Homo sapiens: one gene and its partners. The protein of the gene in region 2 purifies or fractionates together with the protein of the main gene of each other region. This does not show direct contact. Each region holds a gene or a part of one and is shown on either strand. Other genes may lie near its edges. The genes, in order: ANAPC1, NEK2, TMOD3, CAPZA2, DTD1, ANAPC7 and PPP1R12A.

Region 1 (3,500 bases), on a different chromosome or scaffold from region 2:
TCCCGCCTCACCCTCCCGAGTAGCTGGGACTGCAGTTGCCCGCCACCACACCCGGCTAATTTTGTTTTTATATTTTTAGTAGAGCTGGGGTTTCACTGTGTTAGCCAGGATGGTCTCGATCTCCTGACCTTGTGATCTACCCACCCACCTCGGCCTCCCAAAGTGCTGGGATTACAGGCGTGAGCCATCATGCCCAGCCAAGCTTGATAATTATTAAAACTGGCTGATGGGGATTCATTATCCTATTCTGTTTACTTTGTATTTATTTGAAATTTTCCATTATAAAAAGTTTATAGTCTACATTCTGGTTTCTTTAAAAAAGTCACGGAGAAAGAAAAAAAGGTGGGGACTGTTCTACATTGAAAGAGACTAAAGAGACATCACCAAATGCAGTATTTTTTGATCCTTGTTAAATGAACTTTGATTGAGTCCTGGTTTTCTAGCTAAAAAGATATTTTTGGGGAAAATTTGGGAAAGTTGAAAATTACTGGCCAGTAGCTGATGTTAGAGAAGTATTATTTTTTTCTCAGGGACGATGATTTTATGGTTTTATAGGAGAACATCTTTATTTTTAGAAAAGGCATGGTGAAGTATTTAGGGGTGAAATGTCATGATGTGTGTGCAATTTATTTTTAAACAGTCAGCATTCCCATTCCGAAAATCCCATATGTACACAAATGCACACACACAAACAAATATGGCAAAATTTTCATGATTGTTGGATATAGGTGAAATATGTTTGCTGCATTATTTCAACTTTTCTTACTGAAAATTTTTATAACAAAAAGTTGGAGGAAGAACTAATGCATTTATTGTAGTTGAATTAGGGTTGACGAGGTTTTGGAGGCTTTGACTAATGTTAAGTTTCATTTTTGTAAATGCTGAAATCTTTGTATCTGGATACTGCTTCCTCCCACTCCTCCCGCCTACCGTTAACTATTTCCTGATGAGTACTGTATTCTATTTATTGGAAAGGATAAACTGAATCATTATTCCAACATTTGAGGGCATATGTGAAAGCATTTGTGTCCTGGAGTGTTGAAGCCAGTGATCTTTTTGATGGTAAATTTTTTCCCATATAATTCATATAGTTAGTATAGATGTGAAAAGTGCATTTGATGATATCCAAGTAGTTCTTTGCTTCTATATCTTCATCTTAATTTCTCCAAGAACAGTTGCCTATTTACTAGATTCTATGGAAGTGCAGTTAGATATATTATCTCCTTTATCTTAAGATCACTTGTAAGTGTAATTGTAAGATTTGGAATTTCAGTCTTTTGATCTGGAAAATATATTGTTACTTAATCTTCTTGCTAATATGGAGAAAGATAATTTTCTATTTTGTTTATGAAATAATATCAGGTATATGTGACTCAGATTTTATCTGTTCATTGTTTTACCTATCCTGCAAGTATTTTTTTTTTGGTTGTTCTTTTTATTTTTTCATTTATTCTTTTTGTTTTTTAATAGAGATGGGGGTCTCACTATGTTGTCCAGGCTGGTCTTGAACCCCTGGGCTCTAGTGATCCTCCTGGCTTGGCCTCCTAAAGTGTTGAGATTACAGGCGTGAGCCACTGTGCCTGGTCTTCTGCAAGTATTTAGTCTCACTCTGTTTCAGCCATTATGCTGGGGCTACAAAGGTGAATGTAGTTTCTGCCATTGAAGGACTCATAGCCTAGAAAGGAGAACAAACAGATCACCTGAAATGCTGTATTCTGAATGCTGTATAATAACTACCTGTCCACAGAGTGATGAGAGCCCAAAGGACTGAGTGCCAAAGGGAGGGTTTTTCAAAGAAGATGCTATTTGTGTTATAAAATGGTGGCAGAAGGGCATTCTAGGCAGAGGAAATCACAGCAAAAAGAATTATGGAAAAAGATGACTTTTTAAACTTCAGAATGGCTGTACACGAAGTGTGGGTGTGGAGAGATGCAAGTGGATGCTGGCAGTATACAGACCAAAGGGCCTTGTATATAAACCAAGGAATTTGGATTTTAAACTGTGTGCTGAAGGGAGCCTGCCAAGGATTTTAAAATGGAAGCGATCAATTTTGTGTTTTGAGAAGAGATTGCTTTGTTAGCAATATATATATAGGATTGACTGGAGAGGAGGGAGACTGTTGTCAGGGGCACTATTTTGTGACTGTTCAGGTAAAAGATTGGTGCCTTGGCAAAGAAGGGGTGATAAAGCAGAGGGAGATGTGGAAGGGGTTAGTGATCTCTTAGATATCAGGGATAAAAGAGATGTTAAAATATTTACTTTTAGAGGCTGAGAGGATGGGATTTCATCAAAGGAAGTTGAGACTGTAATCGGTGCATTGTAGATTTTGGACATTTCAGGTTGGAGCACAGCTCTCATGCATGGTTTTCTTCCTGAATTTTCATTTCTTAACCATTAAAATCTCCCACAACTCAACAATAAAACAAACTACCCAATTAAAAAATTGGGCAGAAGGACTTAAATGGACATTTTTCTAAAGATGCACACATGGTCAGTAAGCACATGAAAAGATGCTCAGCTTCGCTAATCATTAGGCAAATGCAGATTACAACCACAATGAGATACCACTTTACTAGGTTGGCTGTTATTAAAGAAACATAACAAATGTTGGTGAGGATGTCCAGAAATTGGAACTCCTGTGCATTGCTGATGGGAATGTAACATAGCTGCTGTGGAAAAGTTTGGCGATTTCTCAAAAAGTTACACGTGTAGCCAGGCATGGTGGTGCATGCCTGTACTCCCAAGCTGTTCAGGAGACTGAGGCAGGGGGGTCATGTGAACCCAGGAGTTCTAGGCTGCTGCGAGCTAGAATCATGCCTTGCATTGCAGTTTGGGTGACAGAGTGAGACCCCATCTCTTGAAAGAAAAGTTATACTTAGAATTACCATTATGATCCAGCAGTTCCAGTTCTAGGTATATGCACAATTGAATTGAGAACAGGGATTCACAGATACTTGTACACCAGTGTTTTCAGCAGCATTATTTATGATAGCCAAAAGGTAGAAACAACCCATGTCCATTGACAGATGAATGGATAAACAAATGTGGTATATGCTAACAGTGGAATATTGTTTAGCTTTAAAAAGGGATAAAATTCTGATACATGTCATAACATGGATGAACCTTGAAAACATTATGTTAAGTGAAATAAAATAGATATAAAAGGACAAATGTACAGTTTCACTTACATGAGATACCTAGCACAGGCCCTTTCATAGGGAAAGTGGAATAGAGGTTACCAGAGCTCAGGGCATTGGGAAATGGGGAGTATTGTTTAATGGGCACGGAGTTTCTGTTTGAGATGAGGAAAAAGTTCTGGAAATGTGCAGTATTGTACAAGCTCACAAATTGTACTAAGCTCGTCAATTTAATGTTAATGCTACTGAATTGTCTACTTAAAAATTGTTAAAATGTTAATTTTCATATTGTGTGTATTTGACCACAGTTTAAAAAAAAACACAAAATGCTGTTAAATAATAAGTGATTGCCAGGTATGTCAG
Region 2 (3,500 bases):
GACAGTGTGGAATCTATGAAAAGCCAGAATAAATATTTTTATAATATTGAAATGGTAGACTGCAATATTGGGAAAAAAGAAGGTATTTTAACAGAGATGAAGCCAAAGTTTCATATAATCCTTGTTTCATTTACTTCTATCAGTAGTTTCATTTCTTTCCATCACTTATTCACTACAAAGTTATTGTGATCATCAATCTAACTTAAGTAGGGTTTTTTGTCTGTTCCATTTACAAAATGCTGCCAATGCTCACTAAATTGATCACACTACATCTCAATTTATTAAAGATGGGAATAATAGCTTTCATATATGCTGTCCTACATGGAATAAGGGAGTTATAAAAACTCTAAATTTTATTGAAAATTCAGATGCTCGATTTTTGAAACCAACAACTTTTAACAGTTAGTTTGTGTCATAAATCAAGCAAAAAGATGTTTCACAGTTTGCATTTTACATAATCTTAAAGAGTCGATTAAATTAGATTGAGGGTTTCTATAAAATGGAGAATGTTAGACAATGGTTCACTGGTATATACGATAACCACATCTCAGTGCGGCAGAGTGAAGGGACAATGCCACACAAAGGCAGGGCCCTGAGAAAGCTGAATATCTATATACCAGACTTTAAATAAAGAAGGAAATGCAGAGAACATATGTAGATATTAAACAATCAAATTTCAACAAATATGTCTTTCAACTTGAAAGGGTGTTAGCAAAGATCCAAACGTGACAGCCTATTCTGCAGGTGGCTTATCATGCCTTTTAAGCCATGCTTTCTATGAAAAATGAGGCATGGCAATATTAAAATGTTTATTTTTACTTGAAATGCAGTTTATCTCTCTGAAATCTGAAACATACAATAGTTTTGTAAATGCCCTAATTTTTAAAAATAAGTATCGGCTGGGCACGGTGTCTCATGCCTGTAATCCCAGCACATTGGGAGGCCGAGGCAGGCGGATCACGAGGTCAGGAAATCGAGACCATCCTGGCTAACACGGTGAAACCCCGTCTCTACTAAAAATACAAAAATTAGCCGGGCTTGGTGGCGGGTGTCTGTAGTCCCAGCTACTTGGGAGGCTGAGGCAGAAGAATGGCGTGAACCCGGGAGGCAGAGCTTGCAGTGAGCCGAGATTGTGCCACTGCACTCCAGCCTGGGCTACAGAGTGAGACTCCATCTCAAAAAAAATAAAAAAATAAATAATGATAATAAAAATAAGTATCAATTACTAAACATGTAGTTTGATAAGGTAAAGAAAATCAAACATGAAATTCTATGACTCATTGCCTCAGGTCTATGAACCCAGGAAATAAATCATTGCTATAACAGAATTTTGTTTCCATTGAAATGCATATATTCAATGAAATCCATCTTAAAATTTGAGATTTGTAAATGAAAAGGGCTACCTAAGCCACTTTGGGAGCAACACTGGTGCACATTTCTTCATTTGTAGCACCAGCTTCTGTTGACCAAGTTGATTCTCATACCTGGATTACTTGCCAGAGACAGGAACTTCCGTTCCTTTAGCAAGCTGTAGTTCTTCAACAGATTTTCTGCTCTAGCCAGTTTGTCCTCTGCTAGTCTCTCACGAACACAAAGCTCCTGTTCTTTCTCTTTAAAAAGAGAATGGACAAAGAAAAAAAAATTAACAACTGACCTTGACTAAAAAACAATTTACATTTGGCAATCTTATCACTACTAGCATGCCTGATACTGATAAGCAATGTTTGGGGAAAGGATTCTCACTATGCCTCAGTCAACCTGATTATGTTAGTTTTTAATTGAGTGTTTTAGTAGGCTGTATGTTATCTTAGATTTTCTTGAAAGGACTTGTTTAAACAAATACAAAGTTAGCTTCAACCTTTGGTCATCTTTTGTGGGAGTAACTCATTTGGGAAAACAAAAAACTAAAGCTATCTCTGCTCTTCACTGAAGATAAGCAACAGCTAATTTTCAGGGCATGATCTGGCCTCACAGTACAAAAATCTCCTTCTTCTGGTTGAATGACCACACCCAAACAAAAGAAAAAAAACACAATTCAGTTAGGTGGTAGTTCATAGGATTAGTATTAATAACAAATGTTACTATTTATTCATGGCCCCAAATTCAGAAAGTATTCAGATTTCAGTTGCTATATGAAATTATGGCTGGTCACAGTGGCTCACGCCTGTAATCCCAACACTTTGGGAGGCCGAGGCAGGTGGATCACCTGATGTCAGGAGTTCAAGACCAGCCAGGTCAACATGGCAAAACCCCATCTCTACTAAAAAATCAAAAATTAGCCAGGCATGGTGGCAGGCGCCTGTAATCCCAGCTACTCAGGAGGCTGAGGCAGGAGAATTGCTTGAACCCGGGAGGTAGAGGTTGCAATGAACCAAGATGGTGCCACTGCACTTCAGCCTGGGCAACAAGAGTGAAATTCCATCTCAAAAAAAAAAAAGAAAAGAAATTATGAAACACTGGGGAAAGTTATAAGAAAAAGCTTTCTTATTTTTTACAGAGGTTTCCAAGTAAGTATAGGTTGTACCTATACAGTAAGCATATCTCACAGGACTATACAATATTTCATTATTTAAAGCCTGGATTGGGCATAAAGCTGCAGAAGTAAAATCAGGTGAGTCATGAGGGTGACAGGTCACAAATACGACCCCATCTCTCGTCTCCTGATGTTAAAATGAAGAACCTCACTCTGTAGCTACCTTGCATAACCCTAAATGCTTGCGAGTAGCTCTCATCTTGGTGGAGTAGACACACTTTCAATATCAAAACTAAATTAGCATCTAATCAGTTAATACTCATAAGTCAATGTTAATACCCACCAGAGTATTATTTATAGACTTAAAATATCTTGTATCTAGATTCTCTATTGAACTGCCTGAACAGACCAGGTGTGGTAGGTCACACCTATAATCCCAGCACTTTGGGAGGTAAGATGGGAGGATCACTTGAGCTCAGGAGTTCAAGACCAGCCTGGGTAATATAGTGAGACCCCATCTCATTTTCAAAAATAAAAAGTTAAAAAAAAAGAAAAGAATTGCCTGAACATATCTCATCTACATACTGTAGGGTTTTAGACCTGGAATTCTGTTGGAGTGGCCATTTCAAAAGACAAAAGTCATGGTTTTTTATTATGGAAAGCAGCAATTTTAAGACCTTCCTTTACAGTGGGAAAACATTAGGGTATTCACAGTAGAGACGAAAAAGAAAAAAGTAACTCTAGAGTAAAATACAAGGCTATCGTATTAGGGCCATCACAGTTAAGGCCCAATAATATATAACTAGCAACTGATCTCAGAGAAAGATGTCCAACATGAAGGTGCCAGCAAGCCTGATTATTAAAAAGTCTAAAATACATATTTTGGTTTCTCAAGTATTTTTCAAAAGCTTCTAATAAGATCTGTATGTATAAAATATTCTGCTCAAAGAGATATTCAGACACATCAAAATAACCCACTTGGTAGTTCTCCTTTGCTTTGACCCCCATTCAGACTTACGCTCCAATC
Region 3 (3,500 bases), on a different chromosome or scaffold from region 2:
CGAATTATATCTCACTAAAGCTGTTATATGTTAGAGAAAGGGGGAAGGAATGAATAAGGAAACCAAAGTTGTCCTGCATTTCCACAGAAAGGTAATCCTGTCTTTGAAAATCTTAGCTTTTTTCTGCTTCTATTTTAGTTAAGCTTTAGGATTCAAGACTCCTCACTGGTAAGTCCCCAGTTGTCTTTTCTCCATCTCTAATCTTTGTCTTTACTAACAAGGGTGATCTACCTAAGGGAGACAGCATTCACTAGTTACAACTCAATCTCTGAACAAAAAACAATATGCACACTATGATTACAATCATATAAAAATACGTATGAGAATGAATCAGGCCTGGAAAGAAATGAGGAAAAGTAAAAATAGCTACATAAGAATAATGAGGTTGGGGTGACATTCTTTTTAAAACTTAGTGTATTATCAGCAAATAAACTTAGAAGAAAAAAATAACCAAACTGTCTCCCTAAAAATTGTTCCAAGGCAAATTCAGAAATTGCATCACAAAGGATTGGAATAGACAATGGAGTAGAAACATGGAAACTAAGGCTGGGTGTGGTGGCTCACGCCTGTAATCCCAGCACTTTGGGATGCCAAGGTGAGCAGTTTGCTTGAGCTCAGGAGTTCAAGGACAGCCTGGGAAACATGATGAAACTCCATCTCTACTAAACATACAAAAATTAGCCAGTTATGGTGGTGCATGCCTGTAGTCCCAGCTATTAATACTTGAGAGGCTGAGGCTGACGGACTGCTTGAGCCCAGGAGGTCGAGGCTGCAGTGAGCCAAGATCACACTACTGCACTCCAAACTGGGTGACAAATTGAGACCTTGTCTCAAAACAAAACAAAACAGAAAAAGATGGAAACTAAAACACATGGCTTATATATAATTGCATCTATTTAGATCAAGCCAATAAACAAGAAATATTAAGCTCCCTATAGCTTGCTATGTTGGAGTCCTAGGTGATCTTTCCTTGCTTACATCTCCTTCATTCTAAACATCTGCCTATTTTATAAGGAAGATGCAATTGCTTCTAAAATGAGGTTGTCTCCATTAACTCGACCCACAGAAAAGCCATTTAAAATTCAAATTCATACTTAACATTCTTCCATCAGGAAATACATGGTAACTAGCCCTGGATCAATCTCAGTCAAGTCCCAATCTGGAAGAGGAGCATAAACATTTAATTTTTAAGGTCAGGGTCCGTGCTTAAGAAACTGACAATATAAGCACAACTAAAATGCAAAGTAGCTCAGCTGACACGCTAAGATGCCAAGTCAATCTAATGGAGAAAAACAAACAAAAAAGAGATGTGTTCTGTTTTGTCTTGAGACAGGGTCTTACTCTGGCCCTCAGGCTGGAGTGCAGTGGCATGATAACAACTCACTGTAGCCTCCACCTCCCTCAGATGATCCTCCTGCCTCAGCCCCCCAAGTAGCTGGGATTATAGGTGCATGCCAGTACTTCCGGCTAATTTTTGTATTTTTAGTAGAAATGTGGTTTTGTCATGTTGCCCAGACTGGTCTCAAACTCCTGGGCTCAAATGATCTGCCTGCCTTGGTCTCCCAAAGCGCTGGGATTACAGGTGTGAGCCACTGTGCCTGGCCGAGAAAGGGAAGTTTTTCTTAAACCTATGTTGCTGGAACAACTAGATATCTATATAGGTGGAAAATGAACCCAAACTCCTATCTTATATCATAACACAATAATAATTACTTTGAGATCAATCACAGACTCAAATGAAAAACTTAGAAAAATAAAGTTTCTAGAAGAAAAAGCTTTCTTTGCAATCCTGGGCACTGGTAAAAATTTATTGGTCAGGACAAAAAACACTAGCCATAATACAAAAAATTGATAAAACAGACTTTATAAAAATTAAAAATTTCTGCTCATCACAATATCATTGAGAAAGTAGACAAGGGACAGACTGTATAAAAAAAAACTGTCAACACATCTATCTCTATATGTGACAAAGAACTTGTACCTTGAATATATAAAGAGCTCCTACAAACAATAAAAAGATGAATGACCCAATGAAAGACTAGGTAAGACTTGAACAAACAATTCACAAAAAAAGATACTGCATAGCCAATTAACATATGATAAAGCACTCAACATTCTTAATCATCAGAAAAATGTAAATTAAAACCATAATGAGGTACAACCATACATCCTGTAGTGTGACTAAAATTGAAAAGGCTGACAATACTAAACATTGGCAACACTAAAAATACGGAGCAAGTAGAACTCAGTATAAACCACTTTGGAGAACTGTTTGGCAGATTTTTAATAAAGTTAAACATACACATACCCTATGACTCAGTAACTCTGCTCCTAGGTATTTATCAAGAAACTTGTAAAAGTATGTTCATAACAATCTTATTCCAAATATCCATCAAGGAGAAAATATAAATTGGGGTACATTCATACAATGGAATACTATTCAACAACTTAAAAGGACAAACCACTGATACTTGCCAACAACATAGATGAATCTTTCTTACATGAAAGAAGCCAAACACAAAAAAAGCACATGCTGTATGATTCCATTTATGTGAAGTCCAAGACCAGTCAAAAAATCTCTGTAGTGTCAGAAATCTATGGAGTCAGGAAGTGATTGCCTTTGGAGGAAGGTGGGTGAGGGAACTTTCTAGGGTGACTTAAAAAAAATGTTTTCTATCTGATTTTGGTAGAAGTTACAGTGTATACAATTGTCAGAACTCCTTGAACTGGATATTATGTGCATTTTATTGAATGTTAATTATACATCAATAAAAATACAAAGTAGCAATGTGCTTCAAGATACAGACTAACAATTTTGTTTCAAATGAAATTCAAGACTACACAAATGCATCTTCAGTTACACAGCATTTTCAATCATGTGCCATTCTGATTTATTCACACTTCTATTCTTTGATCATTGTAAATAAGCTAATGGATTACAGACACATATAGATAACAGAATGTATGTTCACATACATAATTTTTTATAAACACCAAATTAAATTTGATTGTTTACAATTTAAATAAGCACTTAATGGACCAGTTATAGGCCCAGTAGAATATTCTATTGTCTATACCATTTTTCTCTCCATATATTTGTGATTTTAAAGGATCTGACATAAAACTGCATGTAAATCAAATGTCAGCAAGGACTATCAATGACCAAGGGATGATAGCGCTTTAGCCACACGGCCTAGAGAATAATGCCCTCCTCATCTACTCTAATCGAGAGAGCTCATGCATATTAAAGAGCAACTGAAAAGTGTGAAGAGTAGTTTGCCAGCTACAACACAGCCTAAATATCAGTATACATCAGACTGACACCAGAAAACCTTACTAAAAGCCTTTTTTTCCTCTACTGTTTACTGGATCCTCCTCTTTATCTTTCTCCCTCCCTCTATCCAGGTATACTTTTATCCGCAAAGCCTCTCATCCTCCCTGTGATATTGCTCAGATATAATTGATTTTCTCTTTTGTTTTAGTTTTTGAGACAGGGTCTT
Region 4 (3,500 bases), on a different chromosome or scaffold from region 2:
TAAAACTATAAAACAATCCTACTCCAAGCATATATTTTAACCATATGGTACAACTATTAATACTTCAAATGAGTTGACTATACAGACAATGACATTACTCTCATCCAGTGCAGATCAGATTTTCTCCCAATATAACTTCCAGCTACTGGTGAAAAAAAATGCAACCTCTAAAAACACTGTTCAAGTGGGTTTGGTGGGTTTTCTGCTTTGAGAACTCTAACAGTTTACAATGTCTGGTATCAGACTCCAGTTCCTCAAAACTACAGAACTTGTGAGAACCTCCAATCAGGGTGGTTACCTGAATGGCTTTGGTCTGGTGCAAATCCTCTTTGGTGTGTCCCCCACCTTGCCTCTGGGCCCACAGTCTTACCTACTTTGACGTATCTGTTTCTTGCTTCTTAAAAACTACATTGACAACTGATTTTAATTGACTTCCAAGTATTTAAAAACATACTTCATTTCCATAAATTTAAATAATACATCCACAATGCATAATGTATAATCTGATATTTTGTGCTTTATTTAAAAAATTTCCCCTTTTCCTTCTCTTGTAATTCTTCCAGTCTTTGACTCCTTAGCTATGTCGGGACTTATCCATCCCTCTGATATATATCATGCTAACAACACAGGATATACCTTTCTAAATTTTTTTTCATAGTCATAAAATCTTACAGATAAAGATATACACATGTCTATACTTGCATACACACAGAATTTTTTGGTCATTATTTTACTACACTTGATCTTAGCCAAAAGGCCGAGAAGCGACTGGTCATTATTTTATAAGAATGCAATGAAAATGTGTGTGTGTACGTACACACACACACACACACACACACACACACACACACACTCTTCTCTGCATCTGGCTTCTTTCAATATAAACATCCTATGGAAATCCCTCAAAGTCAAGTGATATATTTCTCACCATTCTTTTAAATGGCTGCATAATGTCCCATGACGTGATTATAACATAATTTAGTCTGCCAATCCACTACTGATGTGCCATCTCTTTATTTCTGGGCTGTTTCCTTTTTCGGGGAAAGGAGGAACACATTAAAAATGGTGAAATAAGACTGGGTGTGGTAGCTCATGCCTGTAATCCTAGTGCTTTGGGAGGCCAAGGGGGCAGGATAGCTTCAGCTCAGGAGGTTGAGACCAGCCCGGGCAACATAGTAAGACCTCATCTCTACAAAAAAATTTTTTAAAATTAGTCAGTCGTGGTGGCATGTGCCTGTAGTCCCAGCTACTCAGCCCAGGAGATTGAGGCTGCAGCGAGCTGTGATTGTGTCACTGCACTCCAGCCTGGGTGACAGAGCAGGACCCTGACTCAATAACAACAACAAAAAAGGTGAAATGAGTATTGCTGTACATATATTTTAACATACTGATGTTTTTATTTCCATTGGATCCTTTTATTTCTATTGAATAAATTCCCAAGCAGTGGTGGTAGGGACATCAGGTATTATAATTTTTAATATATACTCCTGTGACAATCCAAATTTCTACACATATATGAGAGTATGTTTCCATCCATATTACCACCAATGATAGGCACTATAGCTCTTTTTTTAGTCTGATGGTAGAAAATATATCATTTTAATTCCACTGACTACTGATAAAACTAAGTATGGCTTTTCACATTTGTGGGTCATTTGCTCTTCTGTGAGCAAATATAATAAAATATTTTTATCTGGTGTCTTTTTCTTATCAATTTATAAGAGTTCTTTAAGATAGGCTTCATTCTACAGTTAAAAACATTTATAGTAAAATGTCCATCTTTTATACTTCCTGGGTATCCAGTGTTATTTAAGATGGTCTCCCTAGCCCTGTATTGCACATGTAGACTCAGATTTTCTTCTAAAATGTTAGCCACTTTTCACATTTTAAAACCACCTGAAATCTATTTCTGTATACTGTATGTGACAGAGGTCCAACTTAATTTTCTTCTTATAGAAACCAGTTATGCCAATATCTGTATAAAATTTTTCATATATTCTGAGACTAAATTCTGGTTCTCCATGCTGCTCTAATGATTTTTTGTCTACTCCATACACCACCACATTGACTTAACATTGGCTGTAAAACAACTTGTACTATCTGGTAAGGCAATTCTCCCTCATTGTGCTTAATGGTTTTTTCATAAATATATACATATATATATATACACACATACACACACACACACACACACACACACACACATTTCTTCGTTATTTCAAGCATGTTTTTTTTTCCACATAAACTTTATGAAAATATTGACCAATTAAAAAAAAACTGATCAGGATTCTAATTCAAATTTCATCAAATCCATACATTACTTTTAAAATAATTTAATTTTCTATCTAAGAATGGAATGTAGAGCACCTTTCCATTGGTCAGATCCTGTTTTATGTGTTTCAAGAAGAGTATCACTATTTTCTTTCTTAACAGTTCAGGGGTACATGTGCAGGTTTATTATATAGGTAAACTTGTGTCATGCAGGTGTTGCACAGATTATTTCATCACCCAGGTATTAAGCCTAGTACCCATTAGTTATTTTTCCTGATCCTCTCCCTCCTCCCACCCTTCATCCTCTGATAGGTCCCAGTGTGTTTTGTTCCCCTCTATGTGTCATGTGTTCTCATCATTATCTCCCACTAATAAGTGAGAACATGTGATATTTGATTTTCTGCTAAGATATTTTATTAGTCTGCTAAGAATAATGGCCTTCAGCTCCATCCATGTTCTTGCAAAGGACATAAAGCTTGTTCTTTTTCACGGCTGCATAGTATTCTATGGTGTATATATGCCACATTTTCTTCACCTAGTCTATCATCACTGATATTTAGATTGATTCCACGTCTTTGCTATTGTGAATAGTGCTGTAATGAACATATGTGAGCATGTTTCTTTATAATAGAATGATTTCTGTTCCTTTGGGTATATAACCAGTAATGGGATTGCTGGGTCAAATGGTAATTCCGTTTTTAGATCTCTGAGGAATCGCCACACTGTCTTCTATAATAGTTGAATATACACTCCCACCAACAGTGTATAAGCATTCCTTTTGCTCCGTAACCTCACCAGCATCTGTTATTTTTTGACTTTCTAATAATAGCCATTCTGATTGGTTTGAAATGGTATCTCATTGTGGTTCTGATTTGCATTTTTCTAATTATCAGTGATGGTGATCTTTTTTCTCATATGCTTGTTTGGCCTCAAGTATGTCTGCTTTGGAAAAGTGTCTGTTCATATCCTTTGCCCACTTTTTAATGCGCTTGTTTTTATCTTTTAAATTTAAGTTCTTTATAGATGCTGGATTTAAACCTTTGTCAGAGGCATAATTTGCAAAATTTGTCTCCCATTCTGTAGGTTGTCTGTTTACTCTGTTGATAGTATCCTTTGCTGTGCAGAAGCTCTTTAATTATATCCCATGTGTCAGTTTTTGCTTTTGTTGCTTGAGAAGACCGTCACTATTTTCTTCATAATCGTATGCCTTTTTTTGATGAAGCTTATTC
Region 5 (3,500 bases), on a different chromosome or scaffold from region 2:
AACTGCACGTTCTGCACATGTACCCCAGAACTTAAAGTATACTAATAATTTTTTTACAAAAAAAGACAAAATGTTGGGAGAAAAGAACTGTCAAGCTAGGATTCCATGCCCAGCTAAGCAATCATAAAGAATTAAGGCAAAATAAAAACATTTTAAAACCTACAATGACTATGTTCCACTAACACATTCTTAGTAAACAACTGATATATCATAGAATGTACTTCAGAAAGAAGAGCCCAAAGAAGGAAGCAAGACAGGTTGGTGACCACAGAAATTGATAAAATATATTATCAAATACAGCCAGTTACAGATTATAAATAAATTATGATTAAAAGTGATTATGATTATGATGAAAAGAAAAGTGGCAACATGGATGAACCTTGAAAACATTATGCTAAGTGAAAGAAGCCAGGAACAAAACCACACATTATATAATTCCATTTACATAAAATGTTCAGAATAGACAAATCTAAAGAGACGGAAAGTAGATTAATGGCTGCCTAGGACTGGGGCAACAAAGAAGAGAGTGGGAGTAGGCTAGTACTGTTGATGAGTACAGGATTTCTTTTAAGTGGGACAAAAGTGTTATAAAATTAGATTGTGGCAATGGTTGCACAACTCTTAACTAAAAAAATTGACTTGTACACTTTAAATAGGTGAATTGTACAGTATGTGTATTATATCTTAATAAAGTCATTTTAAAAAGTGGAACTAGAAAGGAAAAGGGGATGTTCAAATATACTAAGATCCTTATAAATTTTGATAGAAATTTTTGTAACTATTCATGAATGTTAAAAACTTAGAAATAACCATTAGGAGAACAAAAACACCATCTATAGCTCCTTCTCTCTATACACACACACACACACACACACACACACACACACACACACACACACTTTCTCTCATCTACTAAAAGAGAGAGTCTATGAGACTAGGTCAAAAAAGCTTATTGAGAAGCCAGAACAGAAAAAGAAACAAAATCATAAAAATAAAATAAAAAATATTCTGTATGATACTGTAATGGTAGACACATGTCATTATAAATTTGCCCAAACCCAGAGAATATTAGAGTGAACCCTAGTGCCAACAGGAGACTGTGGGTGATAATGATGTGCCATGAACAACAGTTATAATCCAACAATGAACTTAGGTTCATCAGTTGTAACAAATGCACCACTCTAGTGGTGGATGTTGATAATGAGTGAGCCTATGCATGCGGGGGCAGAGATATATGGAATATCTCTGTACCATCCTCTCAATTTTACTGTGAACCTAAAACTGCTCTAATCAAATAAAGCCTTTATTTAGAAAAAAAAAAAAGAGAATGTAAACTACCTCATCATTGTTTATAACGACTACATAGTAAAATCATATTTTGAATATATTCAGTTAAATAAAATATATTTTTTAAATTAATTTCACCTATTTCTTTTTATTTTTTTAAATATGGCTACAAGAACTTAAAATGACATATTTGGCTCACATTTGAGGCTTGCACTATACTTCTATTGGACAGGGCTAAGCTAAACAATCAAAGAAATACCACTGTATTAGCCACACCTCTGGGTTCCCAAACATTTTCAAAATGTGAACAGAAGAAGGGAGGAGGGCAAATGCCAGCAGAAGCATTCTGAGGACATGTGTTAAGTACAACAGCAGCAATAGCAGCAGCTAGTATGTGGTTCTAAGTAAGTAACAAGCATAAACAATGACTTTCCAGAAAAGGAGATGCTGCAGTTGCAGCTTCTTTTTTCTCTCCATCCAGGAGTGTCCCAAAGACCCGTTCCTGGATGTGGCTCTCCTGCTTACCTTTGATAAGCTCCGGCCTGTATGTTTTACGCAGCTGCTCCAGGAAGCTGTTGTAGAAGCCCTCTGCCTGCTCCGTGGGCATTGCTAGGTGGAAATCAGGCTTGTTTCCCTTCAGGACACACTGGAGGGTAAACTGGCTGACACACAGAATCTCGTACTGTTTGTCCATCACACTCTTCGACCAGTGCTTCCCACTCTCATCCTCAAATACACGCAGGTTTAGAATCTTTCGGACCCTAAGGGGAAAAAGAGCAGTGAGAGCTACCTGAGAGATCACAAGCCCCCCAACACACTCCATACCCCAAAAATGTCACCAGCTTCCGGTCAAATAAGGACATAATGATGACTCCATCCCTGACAGGAGGCATGACCTCAGGCAAGTCACTTATCCACCCTGTGCTTCAGTGTCCTCAGCTGCGATACAGAATAATAACAGTTCTACCTCACACGGTTGTTTTGAGATTGCTTCTTTTTTGCCAGTCGCTCCAGTTCATAGCAGCTACTGGTGAGAACTGGGGCTAAGATGACAACCACCTATTCTCTGCTCCTTTAGGTCGGGGATATGTCAAAACATGGGTCCAATTGTAATTTTTCATGAACGAATTCATCATGTTAGGATAAATGACATCCATTTTTAAACCCCTTCTTGGAGCTACTCAAAATGAACAATTCGGCTGAGAACGGTGGCTCATGCCTGAAATCCCAGTACTTTGGGAGGCCACAGTGGGTGGATCACCTGAGTTCAGGAGTTCAAGACCAGCCTAGCCAACATAGAGAAACCCCATCTCTACTACTAAAACTACAAAAGTTAGCCAGGCATGGTGGCGGGCGCCTTTAATCCCAGCTACTCAGGAGGCTTAGGCACAAAAATCGCTTGAACCAGGGAGGCAGAGATTGCAGTAAGCTAAGATTGCACCACTGCACTCCAGCCTGGGTGACAGAGGGAGACTCTGTCTCAAAAGAAAAAAAAAAGAAAGAACAATTCAGCAAATACACTGAGAGAAAAATCATGGTTATTGCAAATATGCAAAAAGATCTGGAGAAAGACACCTTGAAAACTATGTCACAAGCTCCTTAAGCCCCAGAGGGGCTTTCCCTATACATGTGAAGAAGGATAGTCACCATGGCAAGAAAGTTGACCAGGTGACATCTATAGGGTCAGATTTGAGAAGCACAGCAGAGAACCACCAGCATGAAAGCTGAAATCTCACCATTTGAGAGCCACCCTTCTGGATGATGTTAAGTAGATGACAGTTTCAAAGACTCTATAAATACTAATTAACTGACTCTTAATATGGGCACCCTCAGGGACAGGTGCTACTCATTACCCCCTCTCCACAGCCAAGATTTGTCTTATGTTGAATCACATCTCTTAAGCACCAGGCTAAGTATTAGCTCTGTAGTATGTCAGAGCCATAAAGACATTCAAACCCACAGCCTCAGTTTTTAGCCATTACACCACTCTACCACTTCTTTGAGTATCCAGAGGACAGCTACTAAAATACCACCATCACTGAAATAGTATTGAATGATAGTTATCCATCATCAACACCTTAGCAGGAATTCAGTTTCAAGTCTGATTTTCAATCTAACACAAAAGAATCAGTTGGGCAGGGTTATACCCAAGCTCTGAGCACCAAGGGGCAGAATAAATGGATCCAGCATCTAAAGTAAATGTGCCCCGTGGT
Region 6 (3,500 bases), on a different chromosome or scaffold from region 2:
AATTTGAACTCATCTTCCTGTTAAGAGCAAATCACTCCTAGACTCCTAGGTTTATTTTTAAATGCTTATAAAAATATGTTTTGGAGGAACTGCATCTTGTAAGATCTATTTTAATGTCTGTGACTGAGTCACCAAACGTTGCTGAAACTGGCACAGCTCCTTTGAACTCCCAGGGTCAATTCACATGAACTTAAAATATTACATAACAAAACAAAGTTGGACCCTGATTGTGCCCACTCTGGAGGTCACAATGAACAGACCCATTCCCACAGCCAACACTATCATATGGATGTGGAGTTATCCCACGAGTACTAACTCTGGCCCAAGGTAAGATGGCCACGAAAAAGAATAGGCCTAACAGGCCATGTACAGTGGTTCACGTCTGTAATCCCAGCACTTTAGGAGGCTGAATTGGGCAGATCACTTAAGCCCAGGAGTTCGGGACCAGCCTGGCTAACATGGCGAAACCCCATCTCTACTAAAAATACAAAAATGAGCTGGGTGTGGTGGTGTATGCCTGTAATCCCAGCTACTCAGGAGGCTGAAGCAGGAGAATCACTTAAACCCGGCAAGTGGAGGTTGCAGTGAGCTGAGATTGCACCACTGCACTCCAGCCTGGGTGACAGAGTGAGACTCTATCTCAAATAAAAATAAAAAAAATAGGCCGGTTGTGGTGGCTCATGCCTGTAATCCCAGAACTTTGGGAGGCCAAGGCAGGCAGCTCACGAGGTCAGGAGTTCGAGACCAGCCTGGCCAACATGGTGAAACTCCATCTCACTAAAAAATACAAAAATTAGCTGGGTGTGGTGGTGGGCGCCTATAATCCCAGCTACTTGGGAGGCTGAGGCAGGAGAATGGTTTGAACCCGGAAGGTGGAGGTTGCAATGAGCCAAGATCATGCCACTGCACTCCAGCCTGGGTGACAGGGCGAGACTCTGTCTCAAAAAAAAAAAAAAAAAACAGGACCCGGGCACGGTGGCTCACGCCTGTAATCCTAGCACTTTGGGAGGCCGAGGCGGGCGGATCACGAGGTCAGAAGATTGAGACCATCCTGGCTAGCACGGTGAAACACTGTCTCTACTAAAAATACAAAAAATTAGCCAGGTGTAATCCTAGCTACTGGGGAGGCTGAGGCAGGAGAATGGCATTAACCCGGGAGGTGGAGCCTGCAGTGAGCCGAGATCATGCCACTGCACTCCAGCCTGGGCAACAAAGCGAGACTCTGTCTCAAAAAAAAGAGGAGTAAGAGAAAAAAAATAGGCAAACTAAGTGATCTTGCATGGTGTCTGACACAGAGAGATTCATATTAATGAGTACGCCACACTGGATGGGGGCGAGCGGTGGGAGGACAAAAAAAAAAAACCCCATCCCAACTATACCCTCACCAAAAACCAGAAAAAAAATCAGAAAAAATGGATTATGAAAGTATGGGGTGACAAATCCAGTGAAAGCCCTAAATAAATGTAAAATGCCTAATGCAGTGGTTCCCAAACCTGTCTGCACATTGGTAACCCCTGGGGACCTCCAAAAATATCGATGTCTATTCCCAATTCCATGTATTTCCATCTACACTGGAGAGACCCAACGTCAGGATATTGAAAAGCTTCCCCGGATGATGTTTTTTTGTTGTTGTTGTTGTTGTTTTAATAGATGGAGTCTTGCTCTGTCGCCAGGCTGGAGTGCAGTGGCGCAATCTTGGCTCACTGCAACCTCCGCCTCCCAGGTTCAAGTGATTATCCTGCTTCAGCCTCCCAAGTAGCTGGGACTACAGGTGTGAGCCACCATGCCCAGCTAATTTTTGTATTTTTAGTAGAGACGGGGTTTCACCACGTTGGCCAGGATGGTCTCAATCTCTTGACCTCATGATCTGCCCGTCTCGGCCTCCCAAAGTGCTGAGATTACAGGTGTGAGCCACCACGTCCGGCCAGCTTCCCCAGATTATTCTAACAGAGTTTGGGAAGTGCTGGCCTAATGAAACCTTCCATCTGAGGGCTGCTGCCACACCCACGGATTCACACCATTCACCTATGTTTTCTTTCTTACCTTCATAACAATCTAAGCGACAAGGTGCGAGCCGTATGGCCTCCCGAAAGTGGATTATTGCTTCTTGGACTCTGCCCATGTTCCTAAGTGCTGCTCCCTTAAGTAGCAGAGCTTGAACACTATTACTGTTCAGCTGAATGGCCTTGGCTCCTAAATAGAGGGCCCGGGAGTAGCGTTTGCTATAGAAGCTGTGACAGCTGGAGAAAAAAAAAAAAAAAAAAACACAAAAACCCCAGAAGTTATCCAAGAGAAGACTACAAAGAAAGTTGATCCAAAAATCATATTGAAGGCCCTGAACATAATCCTTATTCCAAACCACACTTATAGTTTTAACCTAAGATATTAGTAGAAAAGCAAAACAAACCAAAAAATCCACTATTTATTTTTAAGGGGAAATCTTGATATGGAAGAGAAAAATTATGAAAAAGAACCTATGATCTGGATATTAGTTATTAGCAGAGAGGCATTCAGAGAATTTGTAAAGCCAGGTTAATAAACAAAGGAGCATCTTCTGGCCCCATCACTGATGGCTCAGTACTAAGCACAATGCATTCACCAACTCAGTTAATGCTTAACCCTAGAAGGAGAGGTTATTAGCCCATTTTCCAAATGAGAATACAGACCTAGATAGGTAAATAATGCATCCAGAGTCATAAACTATTATTTGAATCCAGGGCTGATTATCCTTTTAAAAAAAAAAAAAAAAAAAAATATATATATATATATATATATATATATATATATTTATAGAGACAGGGTCTTGCTACATTGCCCATGCTGGTCTCAAATTTCTGGCCTCAAGTAATTACCTCTTTTTATTTTTATTTATTTATTTTTGAGACAAAATCTCACTCTGCCGCCCACCTGGAGTGCAGTGGCACGATCTTGGCTCACTGCAACCTCTGCCTCCTGGGTTCAAGCAATCCACCTGTCTCAGTCTCCCAAAGTGTTGAGATTACAGGCATGAGCCACCATGCCTGTCCAGGTGATTACCTCTTAAACCTGTGCTTTCAATTTATATTCTCTTCAAGAGCAACCATTATCTCTTAATCTACTGACAACTGGGGAGAAAAGAGAATGCATAATCATACCCAGAAACCACCCACGGTTCTGCATGCTGATCAGAGATATTGAAAAGGCGGCATCCAAGGTTCTCAACATCCTCTAGCCGCCCTTCTCGTGCCAGTAGGTAGCCATATACATCCATTCCTAGAAGAGAAGGACATAGTGAGAAGAGGTGTTTTAAGAAGAGAAGCAGGGGTCCCACATACAGGAGTAGCACCCAACATCAGACCCCATGCTGAGGCCCCAGCTCCTGCAGGGGCTAAGCCCTTTCCACCATCACAGGCTCCTCCAACTACTATTTCCAGTTTCCTACAAAGTGACTATTAAAATGCAAAACCCAGGTTGGGCACAGTGGCTCACACCTGTAATTCCAGCACTTTAAGAAGCCGAGG
Region 7 (3,500 bases), on a different chromosome or scaffold from region 2:
ATGTTCTGGAGCTGAAACTCCAACAGAAAAGCTCTAGAAGTGTTCCATGCAAGAATATAAATATTCAAATAAGTTTATAACCATCTAAAACAATTTTGAAGGCTAATAAAATATATATAATTTGGGATGTTTATTACAAGTAAAGGTTGAGTGCATACGTGTACGTGTGTGTGTGTGTGTGTGTAACAGTCCATGAAAATATACTTTCCCACATGGTTATTAATCTTTAAGAGGGTGCCAAGTGACATCTCACAAAATGTATTCTCCTCTGCACTATGCAGTATTCAAGAAAATGACATGAGCTTTGTACAATCTTATGATTTTATTGTTAGAGGTCATGTTAAACTAAGAAAATAGTAATTTCAGCTCAAATGTGAGTTAAATCATCAAGTTAAAGTAAAGCTTTTTATTAAGTGAAGCTCTCTCTGCAGAATATCTCACTTAATATACATAACATTTAAATAGACTACTAAAAAAGTGACAGCTGAGGAATGCTTTCACTTCTTTCCATGGTTTCTACTGAATGTCATTTCAGAAATGCCTATACAACACATGACAATGTGGAATGTCTCCTCCCATGAAAGAGCATTTGAGTTGAGCAGCAAGCACACTTAGGGCAGTAACACAGAACTCAAGCGTGTCTTTTTATGGTTAGCCAGCATAACAATGCAAAGATAAACAACCAAAACACTAATAAGGTCAGAAAATACTGACATAGAGGGAGCCATAGTAAAAATGTTATTTGGAAAAAAAAAGTATCAGTAAAATAACAGAAAATATGCATTATTTCTAATATTACCATGCTAGAGATTTCTTTTCTTTTTCTTTCTTTTCTTTTCTCTTTATTGGTAGAGACACCGTCTCCCTATATTGCCCAGGCTGGTCTTGAACTTCTGGGATCAAGTCTCTTGCCTTGGCTTCTCAAAGTGCTGGGATTACAGGTGTGAGCCACTGCATCCAGCCTAGAGATTACTTTTCTAAATGAACACTCAAGGATTTGTTTAAAGAATTTTTAAACTAAGTTACATAAACTGAAGCGTCTATTGATAATCAGTAATAGATCTCATTTCAAAAATAAATCTAACATCCCAATAATTTTTTTCTTTAAGACAGAATCTCGCTCTGTCGCCCAGGCTGGAGTGAAGAGGCATGATCTCAGTTCACTCCAACCTCTGCCTCTTGGGTTCAGGCGATTCTCGTGCCTCAGCCTCCTGAGTAGCTGGGATTACAGGCATGCGCCACCATGCCTGGCTAATTTTTATTTTGTATTTTTAGTAGAGATGGGGTTTTGCCATGTTGGCCAGGTTGATCTCAAATTCCTGAGCTCAGGTGATCCGCCTGCCTAGGCCTCCCAAAGTGCTAGGACTACAGGCGTGAGCCACCATACCCAGCCACCTAATAAATGTTTTGATTGTAATAATGGCTACCTTTACATTGTAAGTATTATAAAAGTAAGTGGTTGATATAAGCTTTTTTATTAGGACATTTTAAAAGTTTGTCAGTGTGTTACACTTACCCAATTATTTAATATTCTATGAATTCTGCTCTTCAAAATATTAGTTTACATTGTGTCCAATTTTTTTTAATCATTAAATATTTATTGTGTACCTACTAAAACAAAATGCCGATACAAAAGGAGATTTAAAGAAAAAAAGAATCAAAGTCCCTACCTTAAGGGTATATAAGGGACTTCTTCCCCCCCACCCCCAGTATCCATGGTATGAAGTTTCCTACAATTTGTCTCTAAAAAGAATCAAATATGTACATGTACGTATGTATAAAAAATTTACTGTAAATGATTAAAAAAAACTAAAACAGGCTAAGTGCAGTGGCTCACGCCTGTAATCCCAGCACTTTGGGAGGCTGAGGTGGGAGGATCACTTGGGCCCAGAAGTTTGAGACTAGCTTGGGCAACACGGGGAGACTCTGTCAAAGAAAAAAAAAAATTAGCTGGAAGTGGTGGCACATGCCTGTATTCCCAGCTGATCGGGAGGCTGAGGTGGGAGGATCACTTGAGCCCAGGAAGGCTACAGTGAACTATGTTCATGCCACTGCACTCCAGCCATGGTGACAGAGTCTGTCACCCTGTCTCAAAACACACATACACACACCACACCCACACACACACCCAACAACTGAAACGATATAAATTGCTATTAGGGTAAAGAAAAATAAAGGTAGTTAAAAATTAAATTCTATGTCCTGAAAAAAGGAGTGTTTCTTGTTGCTGCTGATATATTCTGCACATAATGGTAAGTCAAAAATAATCTTGGCACTTCCTAAAATTTAGGACAATTTCGAATTCTGAGATTAATTTAGATACAGTACTACTGCACTTCAATTACCATAGAAAGGTCTTAAAAGTATGGGCTAGCTAAAACAAATGTGGATGAAGAAAAAAATTATATGTGTGTTTCACTTGATTTTCAGCTAATTTACAGAGAAACCTCCAATTACTAAACACCACCATAATGATGAAAAGATTTAAGAATATTTTCTTCTTCAGACTTCAAAGAAGATACCTGGCATAGGGTAAAGTTTGAGTTTCGGCATCAAACAGACCTGCATAAGAATTCCAGCTCTGCCATTTATTTTCTTGTTAACTTTGAGCAAGTGAAAAAGCATGTTGTGAAAATTAAACTATTGTTTGGAAAAGCACTGCTCCTCAATAAAACACTGATTAAGTCATGGCTACTACATATCTGACTCCAACTGAGAATAAACTTATAATTGTTGGAGTTCTTCAACCTTTCAAAGAGGTATACCAAAATGCCAATACCTCATCATCTTCTCAACCTTATTGTGGAGCCCCACAAACTTTCAAAAGAAGGGTGGAGTAAAAGATGGCAATTTTTTGCAGGCAGAGGCAATGAAAATAGCAACTTCATATAGTGTCAAGAAGTAACATGTTATGGTAGTAACAAAACAACGTTTTATGCCTCCCCCTATTAAAAGGTTTTTAAATAGTTTTCTTTTAAAAATCATCTAATAAGATTTTTAAAACACTTTTCTTATGTGAACTGTAATTTTTAAATGTGGTAATAACAAATGGATGATGAAAAACACTTCCTCTATTCCATCCAGTGTTTCTACCTGGCTATAGAAAATGCTCAGTCACAGCTTGCAATCATACTGTAGCTGAGGCACATGAAAGATGGTCTTGGTTATGACACCTCAAAGTCAGACCACAAAAGTGTTGCCAGGAAGCACAGAGGCAGCAACTACAGAAAAAGCATTAGAACAGCAGCAGTGTGGGCACTGGTGCCCTACCAGCACACCCCATATATGGCTAGGGTTGCCCACTTATTTGTAGGAAGTGAGGGGCCAGTTTGGGGTTGGGAGGGTTTTATTTGTTTGTTTAGGTAGGTTTTTAAAAATGGATTTAGGATGATTTCAATAAAAACTTTTGAAAGGCATGAGCATAAAGTGTTACAGCTTTTCTAAAAAGAAAACTATGCAGAGAAATATTTTACACTGCACATTCTTTTAGACACAAATTT

What was found.
Region 1: the proteins of NEK2 (region 2) and ANAPC1 purify together in Homo sapiens (affinity purification with mass spectrometry; 3 studies listed by BioGRID and IntAct, with this or other methods). This does not show direct contact.
Region 3: the proteins of NEK2 (region 2) and TMOD3 purify together in Homo sapiens (affinity purification with mass spectrometry, with the first as the bait; one large-scale study listed by BioGRID). This does not show direct contact.
Region 4: the proteins of NEK2 (region 2) and CAPZA2 purify together in Homo sapiens (affinity purification with mass spectrometry, with the first as the bait; one large-scale study listed by BioGRID). This does not show direct contact.
Region 5: the proteins of NEK2 (region 2) and DTD1 purify together in Homo sapiens (affinity purification with mass spectrometry; 2 studies listed by BioGRID and IntAct, with this or other methods). This does not show direct contact.
Region 6: the proteins of NEK2 (region 2) and ANAPC7 purify together in Homo sapiens (affinity purification with mass spectrometry; 3 studies listed by BioGRID and IntAct, with this or other methods). This does not show direct contact.
Region 7: the proteins of NEK2 (region 2) and PPP1R12A purify together in Homo sapiens (affinity purification with mass spectrometry, with the first as the bait; one large-scale study listed by BioGRID). This does not show direct contact.

What each region holds. Positions count from the first base shown.
Region 1 is NC_000002.12:111,874,194-111,877,693, reverse strand, and holds part of ANAPC1 (anaphase-promoting complex subunit 1), read left to right. Parts: intron 1-3,500. UniProt on the Homo sapiens protein: Component of the anaphase promoting complex/cyclosome (APC/C), a cell cycle-regulated E3 ubiquitin ligase that controls progression through mitosis and the G1 phase of the cell cycle.
Region 2 is NC_000001.11:211,665,622-211,669,121, forward strand, and holds part of NEK2 (serine/threonine-protein kinase Nek2), read right to left. Parts: coding exon 3,492-3,500; intron 1,611-3,491; coding exon 1,485-1,610; coding exon of another isoform or gene 1,441-1,484; exon of another isoform or gene 796-1,440; intron 1-795. UniProt on the Homo sapiens protein: Protein kinase which is involved in the control of centrosome separation and bipolar spindle formation in mitotic cells and chromatin condensation in meiotic cells.
Region 3 is NC_000015.10:51,832,653-51,836,152, reverse strand, and holds part of TMOD3 (tropomodulin-3), read right to left. Parts: intron 1-3,500. UniProt on the Homo sapiens protein: Blocks the elongation and depolymerization of the actin filaments at the pointed end. The Tmod/TM complex contributes to the formation of the short actin protofilament, which in turn defines the geometry of the membrane skeleton.
Region 4 is NC_000007.14:116,900,587-116,904,086, reverse strand, and holds part of CAPZA2 (F-actin-capping protein subunit alpha-2), read right to left. Parts: intron 770-3,500; exon of another isoform or gene 644-769; intron 1-643. UniProt on the Homo sapiens protein: F-actin-capping proteins bind in a Ca(2+)-independent manner to the fast growing ends of actin filaments (barbed end) thereby blocking the exchange of subunits at these ends.
Region 5 is NC_000020.11:18,594,554-18,598,053, reverse strand, and holds part of DTD1 (D-aminoacyl-tRNA deacylase 1), read right to left. Parts: intron 2,049-3,500; coding exon 1,813-2,048; intron 1-1,812. UniProt on the Homo sapiens protein: Possible ATPase involved in DNA replication, may facilitate loading of CDC45 onto pre-replication complexes. An aminoacyl-tRNA editing enzyme that deacylates mischarged D-aminoacyl-tRNAs.
Region 6 is NC_000012.12:110,379,709-110,383,208, forward strand, and holds part of ANAPC7 (anaphase-promoting complex subunit 7), read right to left. Parts: intron 3,253-3,500; coding exon 3,135-3,252; intron 2,241-3,134; coding exon 2,044-2,240; intron 1-2,043. UniProt on the Homo sapiens protein: Component of the anaphase promoting complex/cyclosome (APC/C), a cell cycle-regulated E3 ubiquitin ligase that controls progression through mitosis and the G1 phase of the cell cycle.
Region 7 is NC_000012.12:79,925,098-79,928,597, forward strand, and holds part of PPP1R12A (protein phosphatase 1 regulatory subunit 12A), read right to left. Parts: intron 1-3,500. UniProt on the Homo sapiens protein: Key regulator of protein phosphatase 1C (PPP1C). Mediates binding to myosin. As part of the PPP1C complex, involved in dephosphorylation of PLK1. Capable of inhibiting HIF1AN-dependent suppression of HIF1A activity.